2 separate regions of the Homo sapiens genome follow, and region 2 is linked to region 1. Evidence: fine-mapped expression QTL. A gene starts in region 1. The other region holds a variant in brackets. All regions are shown on one strand. Distances are between the middles of the regions. Region 1 holds the start of ZDHHC2 (zDHHC palmitoyltransferase 2). Region 2 overlaps ZDHHC2 (zDHHC palmitoyltransferase 2).

Region 1 (2,760 bases):
CCAGGATCTACAGAGGCACTATTTGCACTTTCTCCACCGTTTCCAGTATGGAAAATCCGATTCCTTCCTTTTCATACCTTGATGGTCTCTATTGACCTTCAGTCACTGATTTGCTTCTCTTTGTGAGGGTATTTCAGTCCCAGGAGGAAGTTTTAATTCCTGTTTTTTACTCTCTTCTGATTGGGGGGGAACACAGGATTAATATTCATGGAAAACATTAAGGAATCCAGAGAAGTTTTATTTTTACATTAATATACAGAATATCCACAGAGAATATAAAAGGCTACAGCAAAATCAAGTGATTCACTGGGACATAATATGTCTCTCTTTTCAATTATTTAAAGTCCCACAGAAACTTGACTGACATTTTCTATGCATTTTTGAAGAGAAATGGAAAGAGATGTGGGGTGGGGGGCTGTAACATAGTAGCTATTTCGGGAGAGATTAGCTTGTTGTGTAATCCAGTCACAGAAAGATAATCGCAGACACCAGAGCTAAATTTCTTTGACTGAATTCATGTAAATCAGTATTTTTTTTTTACTTCTACACATGAATAAGAAGTAATTTCATTCACTGTGGTTGCTGTGTGGTGTAAATACACATATTCACTAATGTTAAGAAAAATTGTGCCTATTATGTATAGTAGTGATGCACATAATTTACACACACTCATTGATTGAAATGTTTCCCTGTGGATCAGGTGCGTTCATAATCAGATGAAGGAAAAGCAAAGGAGGCATTTGTTTATTTTCCATTTCGTGAATCATAAAATCAGAGGTTTGGGCTGACTACCTTTAGGTTCCCTTACGGTGTTTTTTGGGAACCGCTTTGGAGTCAGCTATCTGCTAAGTTTGGAATTGCCACCACGAAAGTAAACACCGTAGTGAGGAGCGGGTTGAGGAAAAGAATAAATAGTTGGTGGAAGGAACCACCGTACTTGAGGGAGGGGACAGTGGGAACGGCCCCTGTCACAATCATTTATCCAAAGCATCAACATTCTCAGAGCAAAGAACTTGTGTTTCTAACTCCAGAGGTGCCTGGATTCACAGCCAAAAATGCTTCTTCCTCGCTCTCCACAGCCCCTCCCATGCCAGACGCCGGCTCGGCACCCCCTCTTCGCTGTGCATTTCTGCTTCCCCCGAAAGCCCGAGTAGTAAAGGGAGGCTCCTTGCGGCCCCCGCGGGCTCCCAGGGACCCGCAAGTTGAAGCGCGAGGGTTCCACGCGGGCTGCGGGGACGCGGGCCTCGGTGCTGCAGACTTTCTCAGGGCGCCTGGGTCGCGGCAGGCGCGGAGTCCCGAGCGCAGCAGCTGCTCCGCCGGCCTCGCCTCCGACCCCCGCCCTGCGCCAAGCGCGGAAGCGCTCGCGACCTAACTGCCCCGGGTGCCGGGCGCCTAGGGAGGGGCCGCCACCGCCCGCTCCGCCCCGGGGGCCTGCGCCCAGCAGCCCCCGCCTCCCCGGAATCCAGAGGCCGAGCCGGAGGCGGCGGGGCCACGGTGGGAGCCCGCGAGGTGGCCCGAGCGAGGGCCCCGCATCCCCGCAGAGCCCGCCCGAGGGCGCAGCCTGCCACGCCAGGGGAGGCGGCCGGGCGGCGGGGAACGGCGGGGGCGGAGCGCAGCCTCCCGACGCCGCCGCCTCACCGCCCCCCTCCGCCTCCTCGGCCTCCGCTCGCAGCCGCCGCCTCCGCCTCCGCCGGGCTGAGGAGCCGGGAGTCCGCCGCGCCGGCTCGGGGCTGCGGGATGGGGAGTTAGCGCCACGGCGGCGGCAGTGGCCGCAGCGCACCCCGCCGCCGCCCAGGAGCCCGTCCAGCCAGGGGTGCCGGGCCCGCCCAGCCCGCCCCGGAGCCAGGCCCGCGGGCGGCGGCGGAGCTGGGCAGGTGGATGCGGCTGGAAGATGGCGCCCTCGGGCCCGGGCAGCAGCGCCAGGCGGCGGTGCCGGCGGGTGCTGTACTGGATCCCGGTGGTGTTCATCACCCTCCTGCTCGGCTGGTCCTACTACGCCTACGCCATCCAGCTGTGCATAGGTGAGTGCGCCCCCCGCCGCGGCGCCCCCAGCGCAGCGCAGCCCACCCCGACTGTCCCGGGACGCTCAGCCGCTCCTCCGCTCTCGCCCCCCGGATGCGCCCCGGGCGCTGCCAACCTGCCGCGTCCCGCCGGCTCCGCCGCTAAAAGCAGCCTCGGGGCAGCTTCTTCCACGCGCACGCCCCTCGCCCTCCCCTCCCAACTCTCGGGTTAAGGTGGCGCCTCCGCCCCGCACTCGCCGCCGAGCCTCCCGCCGCCTTCCGCTCACCGCCGCCGCCTCGGCCACACCCCCTAGAGGGGCGGAAGGTCCCCGGGACCGCTGTGGAGAGGGGAGGCCGAGGCCGGCGAGGCGCGCCGGGGGCTGAAGGGCTGAGCTGGGCCCGGCCCCGAGCTGCGCCAGACCCGCGCGGGGGTGCTGGCCTTGGCGGCGGAGCTGGATCCCTTGCTGGTTGGCGTCAATGCACTTGTTAAAAATTTGTGACAGCGCTCAGGGGCGTTTTTGCTGCCTTTATGATTTGAGGATTGCCAGTTGGACACTTTTCTAGTTTAAAAGGATGTGGAGGAGGTGAGCTACTAGAAAGTATTTTTGAGGACATGTGCAACACACTAAACCATAATTTAGGTGTTTGAACAGTAGGGAGAGAAAAAAAGAGGTGATCGTCTGAGGTTTTTACATCCAGAGAGCGAAGTGGCTCCAGTCCGAGTTCGAGGTTCCTGAATTGGTGGGTAGGATACTTTTAA
Region 2 (3,020 bases), 33 kb after region 1:
TGCTCTAATTCTGGGTCTTCATCATCTCCCTTGTCTGAGATATTGTATTCTTCTCCTGGTAATTTGGTTATTTTAAAACAAGCAGATCATTTGTGAATACCATAATTTTAGTCTGTACTTGCATATTATAATGATAATTATGTTTCTCTCATTTTAGTTGTGTGCCTAATGGCCTATCATCTACTTTTTGCAATGTTTGTCTGGTCATACTGGAAAACCATCTTAAGGTTTTCTGTTTACAGCCTGGCCTACCTTTCCTTCCCAGAACCCCACAAAACTTCATCCAATACCCTGAAGCTGGAGTGGTCCTCCTAAAAACCAATGTAACGCCTTCCCTCTACTGCTTGTATCTATTGTGATTCCATATATCCCACAGGGGAAAGCTCAGTCTCTTCTGCCTAGCAATAGCAGCTCTTGTCTCAATTTCTGACTTTATACTTTATACTCTAGTAGTTCTTAACTACACATAGTTTCCTGTATACAACATGGCATTATTTCCTTTCCAAAATATTCTTACCCCTTTCTCATGGAAATAATATATTTATTTTCCATTCATACTGGCAGCTCCTTCTTGGCCTCCTTTGCTGGTTCCTCTTCAGCTCCTAGACTGCCAAAGCATTGGAATGTTCCAGAGCTTAATCCCTGGACTTCTCTTCTTATATACCTGCATTTATTCCCTCGTGGATTTCATTGAGTTCTGTGACTTTATGTGTCACCCCAGTGCCGCAGCTCTCAGATTAATATATTAGCCTGGTGCTTGCTAATAAACGCCTGACACATTTCCAGCTCCCTATTTGACATCTAATAGAAATTTCAGGTTCAACACAACTGAAAACAAACTTCTGATTTCTCATTTAATTCCCCAGTTCTTCTAGTCCTAAAGTTTTCTTATGTCAGTAATGACAGTTTCACTCTTCTGTTCAGGCCAGAAACATTGGTGTCATCCTTGGCTACTCTTTTTCTCTCGGACGCCACATCTAGTCAATCAGAAAATTCTATACCCTCACCCTCAGAGTATGGCCACAATGTGAACTCATGTGCCGCACTGCTCCCTGCTCCCACCCCGGTCCAAGCCACCATCCTCTCTCATTTATAGATTTGCAGTAGCCTCTTAACAGGTTTCTTTTTGTTGGGTTTTTTTTTTTGGTGTTTTGTTATGTTTTTTTTTTTTTTTTTTTGGCCTCCTCTTGTGTATTTTCAACACAGTAGCCAAAGTGATCCTTTCAAAAGACAAGGCAAATCTCTCACCTTTTTGATGTCTTTATACAAATGGTACCTTATCATTGAGGCTGTCTGTGATGACTCAACATAGAATAGCAACCCCACTACCCTCGGCTTTCCCTGCACCTTACCTTCCTGGATTTTTCTCCATAACATTTACCATCATGGCAACACACTGCATATTTATTTGTTGAATACTTTTGAAAATACACCATCGTTAGAATGTAGGTTCCATAAGGGCGTGAAATGTATCTTTGTTCACTGCTTCATCACCAGTGCCTAAAGCAGTGTCTGACCTATAGAAGGTACTCAAGAGATACTTTTTAAGTGACTAAAAGTAGGGAAGAAGTTATTCATACACATGCAGGTTTATTTTTATGGCCTTGGCAGGAAGTTGAAGTGACTTCTAACTTCTCTCTAAAATTATATATGACA[T/C]CATTGGCTAACAGTGAAGACCTAAGTGGGTTAATTAAGGGTTGGGAGAGTAGAGAAGGTTTGAAATAGTGGATTGGACAGAGTGGCAAAAGGATATGAAACACACGGAAGAAAGAACACAGCATTGAAGGAGCAGTCAAATCGATGACAGTGACATTATAACGGTATCAGGCTTCATTGTGTGATTTTTCTACAAAAGACGTACCTTAGTCATACAACTGTTTGAGATAGATACTATTTTTTACTATTTTACAGATGGAGCCACTGGCTTTGAACATGAAACAATTAAGGTATCTAGTGCTACTGTGTGGGAGAGCTAAGGTTCAACCAAAAGTCCTTTCAACCCTTAAGGACACTTTCTTTTCACTACACCATGCTCTAGTATGGAGAGCAAGCACAATGGGTGGGAGTGCCCAGGACTTCAATTGAAGCATGGGGGAAAAATAGCAAAAATTTTTTTACGTATTATTCATTTAATATTTTTATTTTTTAAAGTTTTGTATATGAGGTACATAAGCTATTAGCTGATAAAATATATACCAATACACTTGAACCTGGGAGGCGGAGGTTGCAGTGAGCCGAGATCGCACCACTGCACTCCAGCCTGGGCGACAGATCGACACTCCGTCTCAAAAAAAAAAAAGAAAAGAAAAGAATATATACCAATAAATACTCATCTGTTAGCAGTGTGATCTCACGTAATTTTTTACGGTTAGGGGAACATGATCAAAAGAGTTTGGAGACCACTGTTAGGAAGAAAGAGCCCTTGTCTGGTGGTTAAGAACCTTAGAATATTCCCTTTATAAAACGCAAGGTCTTGGGCTATTCTTTTAATTGATCAGCTGTTAGAGACCTCTCGCTTGTAAAATGAGGATCCTGAACTGAAAACATGTGAATTAAAATTTGCCCTTTTCATAGCAAGATTGTTAAAGTGATAATAGTTTTTCATTGGTAAGATTTTCTCAATATAAAAGTAATACAACCGCACTAAATTATATTTTGAAAATGAAGACTAGGCAAAAAGAAAAAAGAGAAAAATCCGTTACACCAATTCAAGCACTTTACATTCTGAATTTCTTTGTAGTTAAAAAAAACTTGTGAGTACCTAATAGATATATATATTTATGGGGTACCTGAGGTATTTTGATACAGGCATGCAATGTGTAATAATCACATCAGCGTAAATTGGGTATCAGTTACCACAAGCATTTGTATTTTGTGTTACAAAAAATCCTATTATACTCTTAGTTATTTTAAAATGTACAATTAAATTATTATTGATTGTAGCCGCCCTATTGTGCTGTCAAATACTAGGTCTTATTCATTCTTTTTTTTTTTTTTTTTTTTTTTTTTTTGAGATGGAG

Evidence for each region.
Region 2: its variant is fine-mapped to the expression of ZDHHC2 in left ventricle (GTEx, PIP 0.97).

What each region holds. Positions count from the first base shown.
Region 1 is chr8:17,154,833-17,157,592 of GRCh38, forward strand. ZDHHC2 (zDHHC palmitoyltransferase 2) reads left to right here and starts at 1,650. Exons shown (of 13, transcript NM_016353.5): 1 at 1,650-2,021. The coding sequence starts at 1,892. RefSeq lists a silencer at 1,109-2,468.
Region 2 is chr8:17,187,969-17,190,988 of GRCh38, forward strand. All of the region lies in intron 3 of ZDHHC2 (zDHHC palmitoyltransferase 2), which reads left to right. Among named protein-coding and RNA genes, the nearest start is that of ZDHHC2, 33 kb to the left of the region's middle. The variant T/C (reference allele first, on the strand shown) is at 1,657.